7 linked regions of the Homo sapiens genome follow. The protein of the gene in region 1 interacts with the protein of each later gene in a pairwise test. Each region holds a gene or a part of one and is shown in the gene's direction. Other genes may lie near its edges. The genes, in order: ABHD16A, GDAP1, TMEM237, STMN4, SLC10A1, VMA21 and SLC7A8.

What was found.
Region 2: the proteins of ABHD16A (region 1) and GDAP1 interact in binary tests that used the Homo sapiens proteins (3 or more experiments, as listed by UniProt).
Region 3: the proteins of ABHD16A (region 1) and TMEM237 interact in binary tests that used the Homo sapiens proteins (3 or more experiments, as listed by UniProt).
Region 4: the proteins of ABHD16A (region 1) and STMN4 interact in binary tests that used the Homo sapiens proteins (3 or more experiments, as listed by UniProt).
Region 5: the proteins of ABHD16A (region 1) and SLC10A1 interact in binary tests that used the Homo sapiens proteins (3 or more experiments, as listed by UniProt).
Region 6: the proteins of ABHD16A (region 1) and VMA21 interact in binary tests that used the Homo sapiens proteins (3 or more experiments, as listed by UniProt).
Region 7: the proteins of ABHD16A (region 1) and SLC7A8 interact in binary tests that used the Homo sapiens proteins (3 or more experiments, as listed by UniProt).

The regions. Positions count from the first base shown.
Region 1 is NC_000006.12:31,696,825-31,700,324, reverse strand, and holds part of ABHD16A (phosphatidylserine lipase ABHD16A), read left to right. Parts: intron 1-3,291; coding exon 3,292-3,377; intron 3,378-3,500. UniProt on the Homo sapiens protein: Phosphatidylserine (PS) lipase that mediates the hydrolysis of phosphatidylserine to generate lysophosphatidylserine (LPS). LPS constitutes a class of signaling lipids that regulates immunological and neurological processes.
Region 2 is NC_000008.11:74,356,903-74,360,402, forward strand, and holds part of GDAP1 (ganglioside-induced differentiation-associated protein 1), read left to right. Parts: intron 1-3,234; coding exon 3,235-3,408; intron 3,409-3,500. UniProt on the Homo sapiens protein: Regulates the mitochondrial network by promoting mitochondrial fission.
Region 3 is NC_000002.12:201,630,004-201,633,503, reverse strand, and holds part of TMEM237 (transmembrane protein 237), read left to right. Parts: intron 1-72; coding exon 73-193; intron 194-1,295; coding exon 1,296-1,453; intron 1,454-3,500. UniProt on the Homo sapiens protein: Component of the transition zone in primary cilia. Required for ciliogenesis.
Region 4 is NC_000008.11:27,248,405-27,251,904, reverse strand, and holds part of STMN4 (stathmin-4), read left to right. Parts: intron 1-3,500. UniProt on the Homo sapiens protein: Exhibits microtubule-destabilizing activity.
Region 5 is NC_000014.9:69,787,242-69,790,741, reverse strand, and holds part of SLC10A1 (hepatic sodium/bile acid cotransporter), read left to right. Parts: intron 1-3,500. UniProt on the Homo sapiens protein: As a major transporter of conjugated bile salts from plasma into the hepatocyte, it plays a key role in the enterohepatic circulation of bile salts necessary for the solubilization and absorption of dietary fat and fat-soluble vitamins.
Region 6 is NC_000023.11:151,407,206-151,409,864, forward strand, and holds the end of VMA21 (vacuolar ATPase assembly integral membrane protein VMA21), read left to right. Parts: 3' UTR 1-2,159; downstream 2,160-2,659. UniProt on the Homo sapiens protein: Required for the assembly of the V0 complex of the vacuolar ATPase (V-ATPase) in the endoplasmic reticulum.
Region 7 is NC_000014.9:23,128,228-23,131,660, reverse strand, and holds part of SLC7A8 (large neutral amino acids transporter small subunit 2), read left to right. Parts: intron 1-103; coding exon 104-200; intron 201-1,861; coding exon 1,862-2,011; intron 2,012-3,296; exon of another isoform or gene 3,297-3,433. UniProt on the Homo sapiens protein: Associates with SLC3A2 to form a functional heterodimeric complex that translocates small and large neutral amino acids with broad specificity and a stoichiometry of 1:1.

The DNA.
Region 1 (3,500 bases):
GTAAAACCCCGTCTCTACCAAAAATACAAAAATTAGCTGGGCATGGTGGCACGTGCCTGTAATCCCAGCTACTTAGGAGGCTGAGGCAGGAGAATAGCTTGAACCTGGGAGGCAAAGGTTGCAGTGAGACGAGATTGCGCTACTGCACTCCATCCTGGGCAACAGAGCAAGACTCCGTCTCAAAAAAAAAAAAAAGTTCCATGCAATAGCCATGCAAGAGAACACTATATAGCAATGCAAATGAACAAACTGTAGCTACGCTCAACAACGCAGATGAAGCCAGGTGCAGTGGCTCATGCCTGTAATCCTAGCAGTTTGGTAGGCTGAAGCAGGCAGATCACCAGAGGTCAGGAGTTCAAGACCAGTCTGTCCAACATGGTGAAACCCCGTCTCTACTAAACATACAAAAAAAAATTAGCCAGGTATGGTGGTGAGCACCTGTAATCCCAGCTATTCGGGAGGCTGAGGCAGTAGAATTGCTTGAATCCAAGAGGCAGAGGTTGCAGTGAGCCAAGATTGCGCTACTGTACTGCATCCTGGGCAACAGAGCAAGGCTCCATCTCAGAAAAAATAAAATACAAAAAATTAACTGGGCATGGTGGCACATGCCTATAGTCTTAACTGCTTGGGAGGCTAAGGCATGAGAACTGCTTGAACCTGGGAGGCAGAGGTTGCAGTGAGCCAAGATAGCACCACTGCACTCCAGTCTGGGTGACAGAGCGAGACTCTGTCTCCAGATAAACAAAAGCAATGCAGATGAATTTCTCAAATGTTGTGTTAAATAGAAGAAGCTAACCACAAAATAATGTATGCAGTATGTTTTCATTTATATAAAATTCAAAAGGGATGTGCATGTTTGAGGTAGAACACCGAAGACAACAAGGGCATGGTTTTCTTTTTTTTTTTTTTTTTTTTTGAGACGGAGTCTCGCTCTGTCCCCCAGGCTGGAGTGCAGTGGCGCGATCTCGGCTCACTGCAAGCTCCGCCTCCCGGGTTCACGCCATTCTCCTGCTTCAGCCTCCCGAGTAGCTGGGACTACAGGCGCCCACCACCACACCCGGCTAGGTTTTTTTGTATTTTTTAGTAGAGATGGGGTTTCACCGTGTTAGCCAGGATGGTCTCAATCTCCTGACCTCGTGATCCACCCGCCTCGGCCTCCCAAAGTGCTGAGATTACAGGCTTGAGCCACCGCGCCCAGCAAGGGCATGGTTTTCTCAAAAGTTAGGAGAGTGATTACCTGGGGTGGGGGAGAACAGAGTGGGGGAGAGCCCTGCTGAGAGGTGGCTGTGTTCTCTTTGTTGACCTAGGTGATAGTCACATGAATGTTTGCTTTGTATTTTTTAAACTGAATATATGTTTTATGTACATATGTTGTATCTCGCAATTTAAAAAAATAAAGAGGACAGATCACCTACCCCTAGTGGGTACATAAGATGACAACCAGGTGATGGGCGATGCTTCAACATGGGGGTGGTGGGGTCAGGGCTGGATGGTCGCAGTTGGGTCCAGGACCTTCTGCCTGAGGTGTTCTGCCCCCTGATCTCTGCAGGGCTGGGCTCTCTCCTCAGAGAGGCCTTCCCTGACCACCCTGTCTAAAAGTAGCTCCCACTGCTCAGTTTTGTCTTAGTTTTTTATTTTATTTATTTTTAATTTAGAAAAAATACAGAAAAAATTAGCTGTGCATGGTGGCGGGCGCTTGTAATCCCAGCTATTTGGGAGGCTGTGGCAGGAGAATCACTTGAACCCGGGAGGCGGAGGTTGCAGTGAGCCGAGAGCACATCATTGCACTCCCGCCTGGGCAACAAGAGCAAAACTGTCTCAAAAAAAAGAAAAAAGAAAAAATACAGAAAAGTCCAGAGAACAAAATATAAAAGCCTTTTTAAATTTTTTGATGTATAGTTTTGTGATTTTTTTTTTATATATAGTTTTGTGATATTTGCTTTAAATGCTTTCTGTCAACAAAATACTAAAGCACCACAGTTAGGGTTGGAGTTCCCATTGGAATCCTTTCAGTCCCATCTTCCTCTTTCCTCAGAAGTAATAATTGTCATTTGGTGTGGGTTTTTTTTTTTTCTGGCACATACTTTTATGAAACATATACCTCAGTTCCTCAAGTCTAAGCTGCCATCAATTGTAAAATGAATTCTAATTTCAGAGTTTTCAAGGGTTAAAAAATATACATTTTAGAATCTATGAAATATGGTATCTATAAGCAGTATGTATTATTTTGCACATTTTACATTTTTGGCATAAATGTTGTACAAATCATTCTGCAGCACACATCATTCTCTCATCATATCGTTTTGGGGGAATACCATTGATGACACATAAAGTTCTGGTTCATTCTTGTTGTATTTTCTCTGTAGCACTTATCCCTCTCTGAAATGTTGTTTATTGTCTTCTCCTGGCTGTACCTAACCCCAACCAGAATGCCAGCTCTCTGAGAGCCAGGAGCTGTGTATCTCATTTCCTGCTGAGTCTCCCGTGTGTAGTACGGTGCCTGTCTGACACACGACACCTGCCAAGTCAGTGAGGAGAGAAGTTAGGGTTTGAGGTGGCTCAGCAGTGAAAGGAGAGTGGATGCAATCACTGACTGTGTAAGTGAAAAGAGAGAGGAGAGAGAGTCAGCACTGAGAGTTGCTTCTGCTTCAGAAAGGAAAGCAGAAAGGAGGCAGGAGAGGAACTGTTCAGGAACTGGAAGGAGTCAAGGATGGGCCCAGGAAGCAGAGGCAGGAAGAATCTTGAGGGACAGGGAGAATGCTGAGTAGTACAGTTGAAGAGAATGAGGATAGAAGAGTCAGGAATTCAGTGAGGAAGTAATTATGGGCAGGAGTCGGAGACTCTGAAGCCAGATGGCAAGGGGCTAGAATATACAGAAAAGAGGCAGAAAGCAAACATTGGAGAAGAATGGCAGTGAAAAATAGAGAAATTTGATATTCGCAAGGGAGAATAGTATTATATGATAGTGTTTAATAGTGTCATTTAATAGGTTATATGACAGTGTTTAAAGACTGAGGAAGAGGAACATTCTGGAAGATGGTAGGTTAAGGATTGTCTATAAAGACACAAACTGCAGAAGCTAGGGAGAAGAAGCGTCCTGTAGCCAGTTGCTGGATTTGGAGGAAGGGGGTTGGCTCACATCTATTTCTCCGCATCCTATGCCCTCAGTTCCTTTTTCTTTCACTTTTTCTTACAGGGCCTTCTTCTAGCCCATCTCCAATTCTTTTCCTAAAACCTAGGCTTTCTGCTTCCCAGTTTTCCTAGCACTGTTTCCTGTCCTTTTTCTACCAGGCATTGGCCGCTGGACCAACCCCCAGTACCGGCAGTTCATCACCATCTTGGAAGCAACACATCGGAACCAGTCTTCAGAAAACAAGGTGAGAGGCCCTAGGAAAAGTGCCACACAGGCACCCAATAGCAGCTTTCTCAGTTGTCCCTCAGAGCACCAGACACTGGCTTCTGCAGGAAGAGGAGGTGTGTTTTACCACCCACCACACTGG
Region 2 (3,500 bases), on another chromosome or scaffold:
CGGGGTTTCACCATGTTGGCCGGGATGGTCTCTCGATCTCCTGACCTCGTGATCTGCCTGCCTTGGCCTCCCAAAGTGCTGGGATTACAGGCATGAGCCACCGTGCCCAGCCTATTATTGAATTTTTTAAAAATAGCCTAGTGTGTGACTAGTTGAAGGGTACAATATTATTCAGCTGTATTATGCATATTATATACTGATGCAATCACTATACAGTCTAAGTAAAATAAACAGCAAAGGGCTAGAGTGAGGAATGAAATCTAATCTGTTTCCATTGAGCTAGTAGTAAGGGAGACTTGAAAGTTGTACAAGTAGACCTAGGGGAGTCTTTCTTGAAAACAAGGCATAATAATGCCTCCTTTATCTGCCTTTACTAGGAAAGATGGGTAACCAGAGTAGTGAATTTTGTAAAATAATGAAAACTTATGCCTTTAAGCCCCTAATTTCTTTTTATGTTTTACTCTTGGGAAAACCAAATGTAATTTAAAAAAATGGCTCAGAGCCATTGTTATTTTACTCAGCATTACAGGGACTTGAGAATGTAGAGGCCCATTTGTCTCCATTACATGGCTGCAGAATGCTTTTATTGTTTCTTTCTGATTTTATTTTTTGCTTCTTTTGGTTTCCTCTGCTGTTTATCAAATCTTTCTGCTTTATGTCTATCTGCTGGTTTATAATTTGCTGCCTAAATTTATGTGTAATATAAAACTTTTCCCCTACTCAGTTCTTCCGGCAAGTCGGATCTTGTGCCAACTTATTTGTTCTTCTAGCTTAATACCAAGCCTCATTTCCACTGTTGCAATCCCACTCCCCAATGCTGGGACCTCCTCTCATTGCCTGCTTCTTAAAACTCCCTAATTCTCTGTCCTGCCCCGCTATGCCTTATGTTGCTTTCCCACTCCTGATTGAGGTACATTACTGAGAAAAAAATTCTTGCTTTTGGTATTTTGATAAAGGTACTCTACGGAAGAACTGGAAAATAAAATAGGATGGGATTGAGAGGGAAGATCTCCTCTATAATTCAAAGGAAATTCCCAGTTTTCCTTTGAAAAACTCTTTTATCAGAAGCAGCAGATACTGTTGTGCTTCAGTGTGAGGATGGCAGCGCAGTGCCCCTGTGATACTGGAGAGGGCATGCTTGATGCGCACAAAGAAAGAGAGATGGGGAGATAACTTGGGTTCAGTGGGTATCTCATGCTCTGACAGAGTGCTTCAGGAAATGGTTAGACAGTAACGGCACACTGAGTAGAAGAAAATTATTTTCATGGATTTAAACATTTGTCCTCCTTGAAGAATTTGGGCTTGGCCTGATGGATCTTCCCCAGAAAGCAATTAGACATTGTTTTTCCTGCTCTCATTCACTTTCCTAGGAAGGAAATGGTATGCTCTTCTGGAGAGAAGCCCCAGGGCCCAGTACCAGAAAGCAGCCAGAGCCACTAGCCATTACTTGGACCTTTTGGGAAGCATTTGAAAATGTACTATTTAGGGTTATTAGCCTGAGGTTCTTGGACCCCTAAAGCATTAGTTCTTAAACTTTTTGGTCTCTATACCCCTTTGTCTTTGAGGATACCAGAGAGCATTTGTTTATGTGGATCATAGCTATCAATATTTACCATTTAGAAAGCAAAACTGAGAAAACTTAAAATATTAGCCTGGTTAAGCACAATCCCACTAGCTGTCAGAGTGATAGAGTCATGTTTCCTGTAGCCTCTGGAAACTTCTACTGTACACTTGAGAGAGAATAAGAGTGAAAAAGTAATTAACGTCTTAGTATTTCTATAAAAATATCTTTGTAGATCCCCCAAACATGTTTTAGGAAAACCCAGGGATCCTCAGACCATAGTGTGAGAACTGTTGCGCTTAGGGGTTTATGAATAGAATTCAGGAGATTTGAGATCTTGGATAGGGAATAATTGTATCTCTATTTAAAGGAATTATTTCCTTCCATTAGCAATGTAGGCACAATCCATGGCAATATCAGGAGTGCTTCTGGCTTTGATAACCAATAGAACTCACAGATATGTTCATGGTTAAGTTATTGCAGATATCTTAATATTTTGAAATTGTGATAGTTATTAGACCTGACATTTTTTAGGGACAGTTTGACAGCCAGAGATAGGAAGAGATTCTGAAGGGACATAGCCCTGACCTTTGGGTTGCATCCTTCACTTTTATTCTTTTTCGATAGTCTATGAAATGAAAATCCTTTGAAAATGTTATGATGGTATAATCAAAGAGAACATTACATTAGGAATCAGATGACTTTAGTTCTAGCTCTGCCTCTAATTAGCTGTGGGATCTTGGGAGAAATTTTCAGCCCTTGTATCTGAGTGTACATGTTAACTCCTGCAGCACTTCTCCAGCTCAAGTAATCTATATAATAATTGGAAATTTTGGAATGTATTCATTGTAATTTATTAAACACCTACTACATGTCAAACATTATACTAGGCACTGGGGATTTAACAGAGAGCAGTACATGGTCCCTGCCCTCAAGGACTCTACAGTTTGGATTTTAACTAGCAAATAAGGATGTATGTAGAACCCACTTTCCAGAGATAATTGTTAGAAATTCCTGGGGAAAGTGCACCTGCGATATTTGAGCAAAGGCCTTTCCTGTTCCATATAGATTGTCATTCACATTCACATGTGTCAGTAGGGTCACTCTTGATGTTGGTTGGCACCTAGAAAAGAGTAGCCCCTGATTATCTTTCCATAATGAGCCCTCATTCAATTAACCAAACTTTATTGAGGGCCTCAAGTGTGTGGAGAACTGTGCTAGACTCTGGATTGCAGGTTCCTTTCCCTGAAGACAGTCATGGGGAAAAAAGATGCAATGAATTACAGTGTGATAAGGGCTGTAACAGAGTGTGTGTAATGTGTTATGGATGTATAGAAGAAGGCACATGTGAGCCAGTCAGATGTTGGCAGTTGTAGGAGGTTAGGGAATGCTTCATGGAATAAATGGCATAAATAACTGGGCCTTGAGGGCTGAGTGCAGTTTGCAAGGTGAAGAAATGAGAGAATACCAATGTGATTATGGTTTGGGATCTTGTCTGGTGCATCAGGCCATTTCAAACTTTGAATGAATGTCTGAGGTGAGGAGACAGTGTTTTTTGAATATACAGATATGTTGAAAATGTTAATGATGAGTGGATAGTGTTTTTGTTTTGCTTTTGAGTGTAACAACTCATGTGTAACTTTTTCTTCAATATTTGTGTGTGTGTATTTTAGAAAGAACACCCAGGTTAATGCCTGATAAAGAAAGCATGTATTACCCACGGGTACAACATTACCGAGAGCTGCTTGACTCCTTGCCAATGGATGCCTATACACATGGCTGCATTTTACATCCTGAGTTAACTGTGGACTCCATGATCCCGGCTTATGCAACTACAAGGATTCGTAGTATGTAAACATTTTAAAGACCTGGAATTCTGTCTGACACTTTCTTTTAATTCATTTTGAGACCTAGCATGTCTCATGGTCACTAAAAGAAG
Region 3 (3,500 bases), on another chromosome or scaffold:
ATACAAGTCTTGTACATTACTTTTCTTTTTATGTTTTAGTTATTTGAAAAGTTAAATTTATTTTGTTTTCAGAATTGGAGACTTCCTCCACCCAAAAGAAGTCATCTAGTTCATCTTTATTACGAAATGAAAATGGTATTGATGCGGAGCCAGCTGAGGAGGCAGTTATTCAAAAACCTCGGAGGAAGACAAAGTAGGAATTTATTTATTCTTCTAACTATTCTCCAGGATTACCCTGATGCTTTGTTTGGAGCTCCGAAGCAGTAGCTTCTCATTAAGTCTTATTACATACTTGTATTTGTGTACCTCTAGGATAAGTATTATTACAAAAAATCAGTTAAACCAATCGAATGATAAATTTCAGAAGAGTAAACCACTGAGAAAATAAAAAAAATTAAGATTGTACTTAAATAAAAAAACTTAAGAGCCATCTCTAAAAAAGAAGAACACAAATAGAATATATAAGTAGCAAAATTAAACATTAAGGATATTTAAAAATTAAAGATAATGAAATAGGCTATTGTGATTTATTTTCTTATGTTAACAGAATTCAAATTATGATTATTTTAGGAATAAGTAAAACTGGGTTTTAGCATTAAGATAAAATGAGTAGTGTACTTTAAAGAAATAACACTGGAAGTCATATATATAGCACTATTATTTGTATTTGAAAATGAACCTACAAATAGTGATCAATGTCTGTGTTAGTCCGTTCTCACACTACTAATAAAGACATACCCGAGACTGGATAATTTATAAAGGAAAGAGGTTTAATTGACTCACAGTTCAGCATGACTTGGGGGTGCCTCAGGAAACTTACTATCATGGTGGAAGGTGAAGCAAACACACCCTTCTTCACAGGGCAGCAGGAAGGAGAAGAATTAGAGCTGAGTGAAGGGGGAAGCCCCTTACAAAACGATCAGATCTCCTGAGAACTCACTATCACCAGAACAGTCCCTTGACAGGTGGGGATTATTACAATTCAAGATGAGATTTTGGGTGGGGACATAGCCAAACCTTATCAGTATCTATACAGAATCATACAGTTTTAAATTTGGAAAGAAGCTTACAGATCTAGTTCAGTCACTTCAATTTTCAAATGAGAAAACTGAAGCCCTCAGAAATGTAAGTAACTTGCTGCACATAATAGTTAATAACCGATTTATTTGAGTAAAAACCACATTTCTTAACTCCAAGTCCAGGGCCCTTTCCATTATATTTATAGCTAGTTCCTTATGTAAGTCTGTAAAAAATTCAATAATCATCTATTTTTCATACATACGTCCTTATTACAGGAAAACCCAGCCAGCAGAATTACAGTATGCCAATGAGCTAGGAGTAGAAGATGAAGACATAATCACTGATGAGCAAACTACTGTGGAACAGCAGTCTGTATTCACTGCACCCACTGGCATTAGCCAGCCTGTAGGCAAAGTATTTGTGGAAAAAAGCCGTAAGTAGATGCCTTGTTTTAGAATATGAACTCTTTAAAAATTGTCCAAGGATATCCTTTATACTTCTGGAAATCTGAATTAAGGAATTAAGCAAAACTGTGTACAACAATTTATACACAAAACTGGTCATCATGCTATGATTCATGAGAGTGAAAAACTGGAAACAACCTAAATGTGAAATAGGAGAGGAATAATGTCAGTAAGTTGTGGTGTATCTATATAATAATGTTCTTCACCATTAAACATAATGTTTAGGGAGAATTTTTCATTTTATGGAAAGATTCTGATAAAAAATGAGCATATACACATGTGCACACACACACACACAGTTTGATCTATGCATAGGACAAAAGACTTGAAGGAAATAGGCTCAAATATTAATGCTGGTTGTTTCTGGATTTATGGGGTTATGGGCAATGTAAAGATCTTCCCCACCCCTGCCTGATTCTTTATTCTTTCTTGTACTTTACCAGTTTGCTGCAATTGGTAGTAGTTGTGGTGGGACAGATAATAATATAAATTCTACAATTGACAATAAGAGAAAATACATGATGATACTACCATATTAAATAAGAAATACAACATTATAGCTGTATATTCTTTTGCAAGATAGTTGTGACATTGTATAATGTATACTAGGTTTGCAGTGTATTTTAGCTCAGGCTGCTATAACAAAATACCACCGACTAAGTGGCTTAAACCACGGACATTTATTTCTCATAGTTCCTAAAGCTAGGAAGTGCAAGACAAGGTTCCAGCAGATTAGGTTACTGGAGAAGGCCCCTTCCTGGCTTGCCGACAGCTGCCACTGTGTCGTCATGTGGCAGAGAGAGCTCTGGTGTGTCTTCTTCTTCTTAAAAGGATTATAATCTCATCATGGGAGCTTTATCCTCATGACTTCATCGAAATCTAATTACCTCCCAGTGACCTCGCACTCACTGGGGGGTTAGGGCTTCAACATATGAATTTTTGGGGGACGCATTCCGTCTATAACACAGTGTTTAAGAAAAACCTACTCAAAGCATGATCATGACTATATACTACCATGGATATGTTAAGCATATGCTGCCTAAAGAACTCATCTGAAACATAAAGGTTAGTCCTTAAAATTTACAATTTAGATTTTGTGTACCTTGTTTTAGAACCCTACTTCAGAAGATCCCATTTAAGGGATCTTGCAGTTCTTGGCCAATAAGAAACCTGTGGTCTAGAGAGGCTGACTTACCCAGTGTCTCACAGTTTGGTTAGGGTGGAACTGGGACTTGAACTGTGGTTTTATGACTTCTAGTCACATGGTTTTATTCATCTACCACGTGGTCATTTAAATTACCGCAGTTCTTTTTCAAGCAGTATCACTTAATCCTCATTTTTATTCTTGCTTCACTTAGCATAGAAATTTCCCTGCTAGAGTAACTGGCCATAAAAGGTACCAGTGGTTCTATTGTCTGCCCAGAAGTTGTCTTTTCTTAGGGAAAATTGTCACACCCCTGTCTTTCATCCTCCAAAACACCTGCGAACTGGGTTTGGTGAGGATAATTGAAATGGAACCTTTCCTGTTTCCTGAGGTCTATTTGTGGATTACTAGATATACAAGAAGGAGCCTCTGAATCAACAGTAAAAAGGCTAAAGCCCTGCTCATACAATATTGCAGTGCTGACTTTTGAACTGATGTTCTTCACAGGAATGTTCTAAAGAGAAATTTATGAAGCAGCCTATTTCTTTCCTGTCATCCCAGAAAGCCATGCTACACATCCTGACATCTTTTCCTAAGAAATTTAAAGTAGTTTTCAAATATTGACTTACCTTGATAGTATAGGCATATAAACTTTAATACTTCTAAAGTCTCTAAATTAGAATTTTGTAGACTAGGTCATGTTAAAGATTTCTAGACTTTATTCTGAGTTGAAAGTTCATTTTTTTTTATTAAATATAATTGATTTCTGAAATTGTTACTTCACTTTGGATTGAGAAGAAAATACACTGACATCGCTTATTTTTCTTCAAGATGAAAAATTATGTTTAAGGAACCCCAAGAAAAGATCCTTC
Region 4 (3,500 bases), on another chromosome or scaffold:
GCAGCACACCAGCATGGCACATGTATACATATGTAACTAACCTGCACAATGTGCACACGTACCCTAAAACTTAAAGTATAATAATAAAAAAAAAAAGAAAAAAAAAGATGGCAAAAAAGAAATTTTTTTTAAATGTAGATTCCCTTGCTTTTGTAAAAGCCCTGGTTTCTGGCTTATGTAAAAATAGTAGACAGAGGGGAAAAAACCTAGAAGAAAATGCCAATAGCATAAAGTAGCAAGACTACAAGGATTTATTTTCTTTTTTTCTGTTACATAGAATTTCCAAAATATAATGTGAATATGTTTGTAATTAAAGCATTATTTATAAGATGCACATATGCCTATAGATGTAATCATAAAGCAATATTCAATCACATTGTTGTTATTGGGAGTAAGATTAAAAGGGCTTGCCCTGTATATTGATGGCTTCATGTGCTTTTAACCCAGGACCTCACAGAACTCCTGGGTCACATGCCTTGCACACTCTCCAGCAGCCCAGAATGGAAGTCCATGCCCCTGAACTTGACTTCTGTGATGCTGATTCTTCTGCATATGTATATATATAATATATATACACGTATATACGTATATATATAATATTATATGTATATATATATACGTATATACGTGTATATATATATATTTATTTTTTGAGATGAAGTCTCACTCTTTCACCCAGGCTGAAGTGCAGTGGCATGATCTCAGCTCACTGCAACCTCCACTTCCTGTGTTCAAGTGATTCTCCTGCCACAGCCTCCCGAGTAGCTGGGACTGAGACTACAGGCATGCACCACCACGCTGGGCTAATTTTTGTATTTTTAGTAGAGATGGGGTTTCACCATGTTGGCCAGGCTGGTCTCGAACTCCTGACCTCATGATTTGCCTGCCTCAGCCTCCCAAAGTGTTGGGATTACAGGCATGAGCCATCGCACTCAGCCGCTTCTGCATATATTAAATTGGAAATAAAAATTGCCCAGAAAATCCCATCATTGTGGATTATTTGGGGCTGTCACTTTTCCAGTTTAATTTTCCTTCTCTGACTTGCCTCTTAACATAGCTGTTAGTGCTAAGAAGGACTCCTCAGATTCAGGCCTTCAGAGTTCTGCTTTTGTCATAGGTGCTTATTTCCTAGAAGCCTAAGCCTGTTGGGTACCCTCTGGGAGTTGCCCTTGTCCAGGTCCCCATCATCTCTTCCTCTAGATGCTGTTGGAAGCAAGAGCCTAAGAGGTGATTAAACAATGCCAGTTTCCCCAGACCCAGTGAATCACACACTGTTCTGTTTTGCCCAGTTTCCCTCTGTAGGTCTCGCTGGTTCCTTCTTGGTCTGCACTCTAATTCCCACTCCTTCTCCCTTTATGGCATGGTCCACATTATCGCGGAAGACCATGCTGAGGCCCGCAGAGCATCTGCAGAGCCTCCAAAGGCTCCAATGGCTCTAGATACCCATCCAGGGACCTGTTTTACTTTTCCACCAACAAAAACTCCTGTGGTTATTTTAGGATCTAGCAGAGGGCTTGGCACATAATTAAATACTCAGTAAATATTGTAGAAAGAATGAAAACCACATTTATGAAAAAATAATTTATCTCCTTTTGATTTTAAACCCAAAGAAGACACATGGCTGCCAATCAGAGCCTTTTGATCAGCATGAAATAACCAGGGCCACTGTTCTGAGCTGACATGATTCATCCCAAAGCAAATAAATGTGGCATTTAGATAGCTTATGCAGCTAATTTTGGGTAAATATATGACCTCAACTGGATTTTGAAGAAGATTGGCAATAGGGCACAGACTTAAAGAACCACCTTCCTGTACTGCTTGTGGTTAGAGGACCTCAGGCAGAATTCATTGCCCCCACAACCATGAGGTATTCATCCTGATTCTTGGCCAGAGTTTCTAGATTTGTCTTCCGAAACCCTTGCCAGGTACAACTCTGTTCAAGCCACTGGGACATGCATTATCTGCTCATCCCTCAAAAATAGTCCAGATGGAATTTGACACATCCTGCAAGCATTCTTGGGGCATTTCTTACAGTGACCAATAAAATGCTTGTTCATTCTGTCGTATGGGCAGTCAGAGGCACTAAGAGGTCAGGCATACACCCAGTAGGTGGCCACGTGTCATCTGAGAACTTGGTGCTTTTCTGTTTGCCCCCTGGACATCAGCTGAATTACGGAAAGCCTGGAAGTGTGGGTTGCATGAAAGTGCCCTGCTGGGGTCTCCCTTCTGTGTATCCATCTTCTCATTCAGAGCTGCTCTGGTGACCATGTGGGCTGTCCCCTCTCATCCAGGATGGTGTTTGGGGACAGAGAAGGAGCAAGTATAAAGGAGAAGGGCATTGACACTGGAATCCATCCAATCTCTGCCAGGAGTTCTCTGCGTGACCTCAGAATCTTTGGTCCCCAAGTAGGAGGCTATTGGCATTTTGGAAGGGACAGTTGTTTATCGTGTGGGACTGATGTATACAATGCAAGACATTTAGACTCGCCAGCCTCTGCCCACTAAATGCCTGTAGCATCCTCAGTTTCATGACCATTGAAAAGTCCCATGTAGTTCCCGGGAGTGAGACTGCACTGAGTCGAGAACCATGGGCTTGTGATTGCCTGTTCTCTCCATCTCTGACATTCAAATGTTCTGGGTGAAATCGAGGGCTCTGATCTCTTCACTTTAACCACCTTTTTCTCCCCACTGTCCCACCGTGAGATCCCTCCTCAGTCAACAGCCTACAACTTCACTCTCAGCCACGTCTGCCTCCAATCAAAACTTACTCATTCTGTGTTTCCTTACGGCTGGCTCTGTGCTTGGGGGGGGTTATCACCCACTAATTTATTTCTTAACAATTATGCTAATGGTTCAAGCCATCAACAAAAAGCTCTGGTTCCTTGCTTTTCTGTACAGACTCTTAGATGCTGGTGCTGGGGGAAATGTATGGATCAGTTTGTAAATGGAAAAATAGTGCTGGGTGAGATGTGAAAACTTCAGAGTGGAACTCAATCCAGCAGGTCCAACCCACACTTTGTACCCAGACTGCTATTTGGCTTCCAGCCTATCCCTCCTAATTTTTCCCCAAACGAATGTTGCCAGATGAATCTTTTTACACTCGCAGCAGAACCTAAAGACAGAGAGGCTTTCCAATGAAACACATGAGGACTCAAATCCCAGCTCTGCCCCTACCTACCTGTGTGACGACGGTATAACTTACTTAACTGCTGAGATTCAATGTCCTCATTCTCAAAGAACCTAATAGAAAAATGAGATAACAGCCGTGCTTTTCCTGCCCAAGAATGGTAGTTGTTATTATTGCTATTATTATCAGCATCACTGTTCTCTTCTCCCCTCATTCAAAAGATGTCAGTGGCTTCCTACTGGGTGGGAGATAAAGCACAAAGTCCTTCACTGGTCCAGAGGTCTCTGCAATTTTCCAGTTCCTATTCTAGCATTCTGTCCCACTGCACCCTGCATGCAGCCCAGTGGGCCTCCTGTGTTCCTGAGTAAACCCA
Region 5 (3,500 bases), on another chromosome or scaffold:
TAATGACTATCTTTGCTTTATTCCTCTTGTTAAAGAAAATCCCTCTATTTACCATTAAGTTTAACGTTTAATATACTTTTTCTAATAGATTTCCTTTCAAGTTAAGGAATTTTCATTCCGTTGCTAGTGTACTAAATTTTTATTATGTAAGAACATTAAATTTTGTTGACTTTTCTATAGCTACAAAATTGTACCATTTCTTTAATAATATAGTAATATGTATTAATAGATTATCTAATGTTAAATCATTCTTACTCATCTTGTTCATTGTATTTTTTAAAACACTTATTTGCTAATATTTTATTATTTTTGTTTCTATGTTCATAAATAAGAGTGGTCCCCAATTTTCTTTTCTCGTAATATCATTCTCCAGCTTTCGTTCCAAGATCATATTAACTTTATACAATAAATTAGGGCATGTTTCCCCTTTTTATATTATCTGGACAGATTTGCATAATATTGCAACAATCTGCACTTTGCATGTTTAGTAGAACACTACCGTAAGACAGTATAAATCATGTAGGGTTCTAGAAGATAGGTTTTGAACTGCTTATTAAATGTCTTAAATGATTCTAAGTTGAATCAGGTTTTCGGCTTCATATTGACTTGGTTTTGTAGGTTATATTTCCCATGAAATTGTCCATTTAAGTTAAAAATGAAAGTATGAAAATGTCCTTAATGACTTTTTAAAATCTTCATTTTCTCTGTAGTTATGTTCCCTTTTTCACACTAACCTCATCAATTTGTGCCATCTCTCTTTTCCCTGGTCTGCCTTGCCAGAGGTGCCTATTTAATTGGCCTTTAAAAAAAAAAAGAAAAAAAAAAAACCCTATTTTTGGTTTTACTGATTCTAACAATTTACAAAACTTAAAAAATTTCTTCCTTTTCTTTTTATTGGGTTTTTCTCATTCTAACCTCTTAAGGTGCTTAACTCATTAATTTTTAATCTTCTTTTTCAATATAAATATGTTAGGCTATAAATTGCCCTTTAATAATTGCTTTATTTGCTCCCTGCATGGTTTTTAATTACTATTTATTGAGATATAATTCACATACCATAAAATCCATTCTTTAAATTGTACGATGCCTTGGTTTTTAGCATAATTCCAAGCCTGTGAACCTATCACCATTATCTAATTTCAGAACATTTTCAATACCCCAAAAAGGAACTCCATCCCATTTAGCAGGAGTCCCCATTTCTCTCTCCTGCTCCAACCCTTGACAACCACTAATCTTTCTGTCTCTATGGATTTCACATAAATGGAAGCATTCAATATGTGACCTTTTGTATCTATACTTCTTTCACTTAGCATATTTTCAAGGTTCATTCATGTGATAGCATGTCACAATACTTCATTTGTTTTTGTAATTGAATAATATCCCATTGTATGGATATAATACATTTTGCTCATCCATTCATTCAGCTGATGGACACATGGGTTGTTTCTACTTGTTCCCTAGTATGAATAATGTCTATGGAAGCTCACAGGCAAGTTTTTGTGTGAACATGCTTTCTGTTCCCTTGGGATATATACCTAAGAGTAGAATTGCTGGGTTATATGGTGACTCTGTGTTTAAATTTTCTAGAAACTGCCAAACTATTTTCCAAAGCACCATTTTACTTCCCACCACCAGTGTATGAGGATTCCTAATTTTCCATATACCCTCCAACACTTGTTATTGTCCAGCTTTTTAATTATAGCCATGCTAGTAGATATAAAGTGGTATCTCAAAGTGGTTTTGATTTGCATTTTCCTAATAAGTAATGATGTTGAGCATCTTTTCATGTGCTCATTAGCCATTTGTATATCTTCTTTGGGAAAATATCTCATTCAAATCCTTGGCCCATTTTTTACTTGTTTTTTATTATTGCATTATAAGAGTTCTTCATATATTGGCCGGGCGCGGTGGCTCACGCCTGTAATCCCAGCACTTTGGGAGGCCCAGGCGGGTGGATCACGAGGTCAGGAGATCGAGACTATCCTGGCTAACACGGTGAAACCCCATCTCTACTAAAAATACAAAAAAAATTAGCCGGGCGTGGTGGCAGGCGCCTGTAGTCCCAGCTACTCGGGAGGCTGAGACAGAAGAATAGCGTGAACCCAGGAGGCGGAGCTTGCAGTGAGCCGAGACTGCGCCACTGCACTCCAGCCTGGGCGACAGAGCAAGACTCCATCTCAAAAAAAAAAAAAAAGAGTTCTTCATATATATTCTGAATATTAGACCCTTATCAGATATATGACTTGCAAATATTTCCTCCCATTCTCTTGTTGGCTTTTCACTTTCTTGATGGTGTCCTTTGAATCACAAGTTTTTAATATTAATGAAGTCTGACTTGCCTTTTTCTTTGGCTGTTCGTGCTTTAGATGTCTAAGAAACCATTGCCTAATCCAAAGTCCCCTCTCCATGTTTTTTAAATATGTATTTTATTATTTTTATATTCTAAATACTGTTTCCACCATGATTTCATATTTGATGATATAATTAGAAAGTTCCCCTCCCCTCATCCCATGATCCTTTTATTGGTTGCTCAGTTTCAATGCTCCTCCCATCCCAGGTCTAATACCTCAATTCTGGTCCCTTCCTTGGGCATTAAAGCCTCCACAGTGCCAAGACTAACACCCCACTCCCCTCCAGAACCCCTCTATGAAGCTTCAGCTTGAGTTCCCCCACTACTTTGCATTTGTTTCTTGTCCGTGGGCACCTTTTTTTTTAGTGGAGTGGCGCTAACATAGCTCACTGTAACCTCAACCTTCTGGGCTCAAGCCATCCTCCTGCCTCAGCCTCCCAAGTAGCTGGGACTCCTGGTGCACACCACCACACCTGGCTAATTTTTGTGTGTGGTTTTTGGTTTGTTTGTTCATTTGTTTGTGTGTAGAGACAGGGGTCTTACTTTGTTGCCCAGGCTGGTCTCAAACTCCTGGCTTCAAGCAATCCTCCCTCCTCGGCCTCCCTAAATGCTGGAATTATAGGCATGAGCCACTATGCCACACTTAAATTGAGTGTTAATTTCTTACAAGCTCAAGTGTGTATTTAAGTGTTCACGGGGGTGGGGGAGTTCCTATTACCTAGTTCACAATTTTCTTTGAGGGACTCTTCTCACCTCTAACAGCTCTTATCCTTATGACATGCCTACCTATTGTTCTTGATGGCTACGCTCTGGAACCTTTGATATAGGCTGCTCTTCATGCATATTTAAGCCATATTCCATCTTTATAGAAATAATGAAAGAAGTGTAGATGGAGGGTAGGGCTGTGGGGAGGAGGAGGGACACACTGAGTGTGGTTTTCCTAAGATCTTGCCAAGCCCTCACCTCCCAACCATCTTCCCACTGGAATAAAAGTCAGAGCCATATATTGTTAATGTAAATGTCCATAAATCTAAGGAGATGCCCTATCAGCTTCCTTCTCAGTTGACCTTTCTGGAGGGCCTCTCCCTAGACAGGGTCCTGGGACTAACATATATAAGATTCCAAATGGAAAAGGAAATTGGACAAGTAG
Region 6 (2,659 bases), on another chromosome or scaffold:
TTAAACCAGGGGCATATGCAAAGGCAGTTGTAATTTCCTCTTGGAAAAAGCGCCAAATGTTTGAAGGTTAAAATCAAATGCTAGGGTTGATATTTAGGCTTATAACAAAATAGGCTTGTTTTCAAAGCAGTTTTTTCCTAGAGTTTTAACTGTTAACTCACTAGTTTGCTGCTGTTTTTAACTATGTTAAATAACATATGGTATTTGGCAAATAGATTTATTTTTCAAAATGTCTCACTAGTTTCCTTTTACACAATGTATATACTTCAAGATGTATAGAAAGGAAAGCTACAGTTGAGCCCTTATACATGTTTTAAGGTAGAAATATGTTCCCTATTGTTTGAAAACTGATTGTAAGAATAACCTCAGTTAGGAGATATAACTTGAAGTGTCAGTCCAAACTACTGATTTAACCCTATTTACGGTAACACATTACCTTCCTCACCTCCTGTTTGGCCCTGGAGAATGTAGTCCTTTTTCTCATTTGTGTTGAGAAATGAAAAGTCTGCTGTAGAATGTATCTGATGTCATTAGTTCTTCAAATGGATACCATTGTACATATAACAGTAGAATTTGGTTTGGGGTTGTTAGTGAAAAAAAATTTAAACCTGCCATTAAAAATCCCCATGTTTCATGGAAATCTAACAGAAATACATTGTAATAATTAGAACATTTTGTTTTCTTTTTTCTTTTTTTTTTTTTCGAGACGGAGTTTTGCCCTTCTTGCCCAGGCTGGAGTGCAAGGGCGCAATCTCGGCTCGCTGCAACCTCCGCCTCCCGGGTTCAAGCAGTTCTCCTGCCTCAGCCCCCTGAGTACCTCAGATGACAGGTGCGTGCCACCACACCCGGCTAATTTTTGTATTTTTAGTAGAGACGGGGTTTCACCATGTTAGCCAGGCTAGTCTCGAACTCCTGACCTCAGGTGATCCACCCGCCTCCGCCTCCCAAAGTGCTGGGATTACAGGTATCAGCCACCGTGCCTGGCCTAATAATTGGAACATTTTCATCATGAAAATGTCATCAGCTTTGCCAAAAGAAACAACCAATTGACTTGTTTGGCGTTTGTTTTCCATTTTCATGTCAATTTTATGTATACAGTTAGAATACCCAAGGAGACCACTAAAATCAGTTAAACAAGTAGGGTATATACAAAGAAAGATGAAACCCGAAAGTACATAAAAAGGATTTAAATCCGATTTTAGATGTACCTAGTGTGTATTTCTTATCTCTAGACAAGTTCATGTTTATTGTTTAATTTATGCCCAAGTGAAGTTGTAAACTTATGGTTCAACTCTGACACAGAATTTGTCACTTGTCTGAGGTCAGTGGCAGGTTTCTCTGCTGTCAAGCACTCTGTGTCACCCACCAGATTAGTATAACTATTAATTCAGACTGTACTCCTATGTTTAAGATAATTTTTACAAGAGCTGGCTGAAGCAGCACATTAGTAACCTGACAAGATTTCTTTTTCCCTTTTCAGGGGGAAAGGGTCACCTTAAAAATAAATTATTTTCAGGGACTTTGGGAATCTAATGATAAATATTACACATAATCTATGAATAGCTTAATCCTTTATATATTCCTTAAAATAGGAATTCCTCGACATCACTCCTGGCCACACTTTCCTTGCCTGTGTTGTTGCTATGTGTATTTGAAAGTAATATCTGCATTCCTTTTAAGATGTTCTGTAAGTCATATTTGTCAGTTATACAGAGTAGTCTTCCTTTTCCCCACGTTCAGTGTAATCTCACTGAACAGTAATAATAGCAATAGCTAACAACATCTGCACAGCACCTTACAGTTTGCAAAGAACGTTCACACATTCTCATTTGAGTTTTGCATAGTGAACCTGTTACGAGATGTCTCTTGACGTCGATGCTAAAAGTGTTAGAATCTTTACATCACTAGAGTCATTGAATATGCTGTAGTATTGAATAGTGCCCTGACTAGGGGGAGGATTTGGATGTGCTGCATTTCAAGCCGTGTATAATCATCAAAATGGGGGGCTTGAGTTCTTTAGCTACTTGAATCCGATTTACTTCTGTTAAGTGATGCTTTTCTAACCGTTTTCTGGATGGATTTTGTATTCACTATATTGTAGCTTGTAATTTGTATAAATGTACCATCTGATGTCATTAAAAAAAGTGTTTGTAGTGCTACTTTGCTGTGTCCTGATTCAATTAATGTTTTATTAACCGCTGTGTTTTTAAAAATTTGTTTGCCTGCTTCTCATTTTATAACATGTAGAATATGTACAGAGCTCACTTTAAAAAATTTGTTCGTTGGCCTCTGTTTGTGCTATGTAGATTATATAGAGAGCTGTCAAGGATAAGTTTTTATGCAGTAAATGTCAACCAGAAATGCTCAAACTGATTGGGAGTGTGGGGGAGGGGTGTTGAGCTGTAAAGGGCTGGTTATACTTCGTCTGGGGTGGGCTTCAAATGCCCCTAAAGGAGAGTTGAGAAATGTGGAAATAGATAATTCCTGACGACGTCCACATGCCACCCCCTCATGACCAATGTCCTGTGTCCTCTGTCCTCTAATCACCCGTTGATTGCACTCCAGCTCCTTCCTGTGCTTCTGAGGACTCCAGCTAATTCTTACTAATAAATGTTAATATCCCCTTCCCAAACACATTTGAGACGTCTTAGTATTAACA
Region 7 (3,433 bases), on another chromosome or scaffold:
AGTGGGGATGCCCCTGTGTGGGCAGAAGGTAGGCAAGGATGAAGGAGCTGGGGCTTGGTGGTCCCTGGGTTATCCCAGGCTGACCTGCTTTTCTCCCTGACAGGCTGTTCTTCGCTGGAGCCCGAGAGGGCCACCTTCCCAGTGTGTTGGCCATGATCCACGTGAAGCGCTGCACCCCAATCCCAGCCCTGCTCTTCACAGTAAGGGCCCTTCCTGCTGTAACTCTCCACACACCTCCCTCTCTTTGTGCCTAGTCTAAGCTGGGAGTTCATGCTTTTCACACACACCCCTGTTACCCTTGCAGTCTGCTGCTAGGTCTCACTGGATCTTAGAGGATCTGGCAAATGATACCCATCATCTTTGTTAATATCAAGAGATATAGCAAGGAAAGATCCTGAGTCTTGAAATACCTAAGGCTCTCAGGCTGACTTATTTCCGTTCTCCCATCCTTTTGGGTCAGACTGAACTGACTGTCTCAGGATTCTACAGCCTCAAAAAAAATATATCTCCCTTGGCTCTCCTCGCACCTGTTACCACAGGGTTGCAGCACTGGCCTCTGCTCCTGGCTGGTTGGTCCCTGCAAACACCCACTTCCCCCATCAAGCTTCAGGGCAGCCTGCCAGTCTCTTGGGAAACATCATTGAAATGAAGTTAGTGTTAACAGTACACCAAATACGAAAAATAATAGAGGAAGACTGATAAACTGGAAACTGTGCAAAGGAAACTTGGGACAGGAAAGAGATGGGAGTAAAATATCCCCAGAGTAGAATCATTTTGAGAGAGCTATAGGAAGGAACAAAGACTTGTCCCCATTGAGTCTTTTGAGTTATTTTTATTTTCCTTCTGGATCCTGAATAAAACACTAAAAATGACTTTGGTCCACTGGTGAAGCAGTTAGCAATCAGAATAACAGAGCTCTTGGGAGCCAAGAGCATTTTACAGCATTGCTGTACAATTTCAGAATGTTCAGATGCAGGATGAAGGTCACCTTGACTGGTTGGTTGTCGAAGGTGGCTGGAGAAGACAGTACTCCCAGTGGGCCACACACATTTTTTTGTTTTGTTTTGTTTTGTTTTTTCCAGTTAGAGCTATTGGTGCAGTAGTGTGACTAAAAGGCAGATGTAGCAAGAACCATTAAAATCTTCTCGATTATTTTAACCATCGGATCTCACAAGAGAACAGAACCTTTTGTTGACCTTCACAAGTTATCAGAGGGGAGGAGCATGGTTCCAAGAGAGCCACAGAGATGATTTTGAAGTTGGAAAGTAGACTCTGTCAAGAAAACCTCATAGGGATGTTATGAGGGTTAAGTGAGTTAATCTTTGTCAAATGCTAAACATAGAGACCTGGCACACAGTAAGTGCTATGTAACCAGTTTTGAAATTAATAAAGAAAAGGAAGGAAGAAAAATAGATGACTCAGCCAGGAGAAAAGGATGAGGGCAGGAATACAGCCTTAATCTGTTGTTAACAATCTTCCCTAAGGGATTTTAAAAAAATGAATTTAGCTTGAGCTATAACCAACAGAGGCATACAAATGAGACCGGGGCTGACACAGAGCCAGGTAATACCAGTGTGGCCAGTCTAGCTGCTTATGTCCAGTATCCATTCTAATTGGCTAGTGCCCGTGCCATACGAGTGGTTAAATATTTTGATCATCACCCCTGTAATAAGAAAGGATTTCCTAGCAATAAAGATGTTGTAACATATTGGGTTACTAGGGGAGGTTCTAAAGTCTCCATTTCGAGACATCCATTATACGATGGCATCATCTGCCTGGAGGCTGGGGGACAGCCCCTAATCTGTAATACCAGTCTCTGAATATCTTTCGGATCACTGATGAGCTCCTCCCACTTTCCCAGTGCATCTCCACCCTGCTGATGCTGGTCACCAGCGACATGTACACACTCATCAACTATGTGGGCTTCATCAACTACCTCTTCTATGGGGTCACGGTTGCTGGACAGATAGTCCTTCGCTGGAAGAAGCCTGATATCCCCCGCCCCATCAAGGTGAGAGAAACTCCCTTTGGGGTCCCCTCCCCTTCCTCTATGGTTCTAGCTGCAGTTCAGATTTTTAAATCACCTCTGTTCTTAGCTGCTGACCACACGTCATCATCTCTGATGGTAGCAGACCCTTTGGAAAGCAAGGGCCATTTGTGAATGGGACCACTATTTCCATTCTCCACTGGGGATGAGATCGGAGCAGACTGCAGCTGGGGAATAAGTCAGATCAAATGTGACTTTCATCATGACATTCCTTTGTTTCCTACCAGTCTAAGCCTTAAACTCCAGCTGACTTTTCAAGGTTCTCTTATCTCCCCAACACTTCCTCCTTGTCCCTCCAGATAGCTGGGTTCACTATGTGCTATGTCTCCATCCCAGAATGACTTCCTCCTCCCATCTGCCCATCTACATTTTAACCATTTTCCAAATGCGCCTCAAGTACCTCCTCTTTCTTGAAGTCTTCCAGTCTACTGCAACCTCCCATGATCCTCCCTTTATAAACTCCCACAGTCCTACACATATAGGGTGCTCAGTGAACCTAATATTGCTACAAGATATAACTCTGTGATAGGAATTAAAGGGATTGCTCAGAACAGGACATGCTAGAGCATTATGAGTTCTCCTACGAATTAGAAGAATAGAGTGTACTCCAGAGCTATTTGAACAATCCTATTCTAGAAACAGTGACTAGATGCTTCTAGAAGATCCTTCCAGCTGAAAAATCAAAGGCTCTCCAAATCTCTCAGTTCCTCACTGGCATTTCCACCGCCATTTTCTACTCTCACACTTAGAAAATCTGCTAGAGGGAAGAGGAGGTAGAATAACCCCATGTCCCCACCACACACATCCCTTCTGAGCGAGGAAGACAAGGAAGAGAAAGGCAGCCGAATCAGGACTGCCCCTGGAGCCCTGAAGAGGATACTCTCAGGAACTCCCCACATGTGGCCCATAAGGAGCTGACATTTGCCATATTGTGCCCACATAAGGGCCCTGCACAGAAGTGGGCAAGGACCAGGGAGCCTGAGTGACTCGAATCGTCTCCTGCCTGCACCTTGTGCATTGCCACACCTCCCCTCCACCCTAGGACCTCAGCAGACACACCCATGTGCCAGCAAGCTTCTCCATCCCTGTGGGCTTCTCTGGCTGCCACGGGCACATGGCATGCATGATGAGGCCTTGTCTAACCACACCCAAGAGCGAGGACATGGGCAAGGAGGATCGTTTCCTCCCTAACTCCTCCCCATCCTCTTCCTGTCTGACCGACCATGTTCATCAACATTTGTTTATATAGCCCCTGCCCTACCAGGGGTGAGTGTGGGACCACAGAGCCGAGGGAAGCCCAGCCTTTGCCCTTGAGGATGTGTCTCTGTGGGTGAAGAAGAGAGAGAATGCCCCAGTCCCTAGTCCTGGGGGCCACGTGGCCTACAC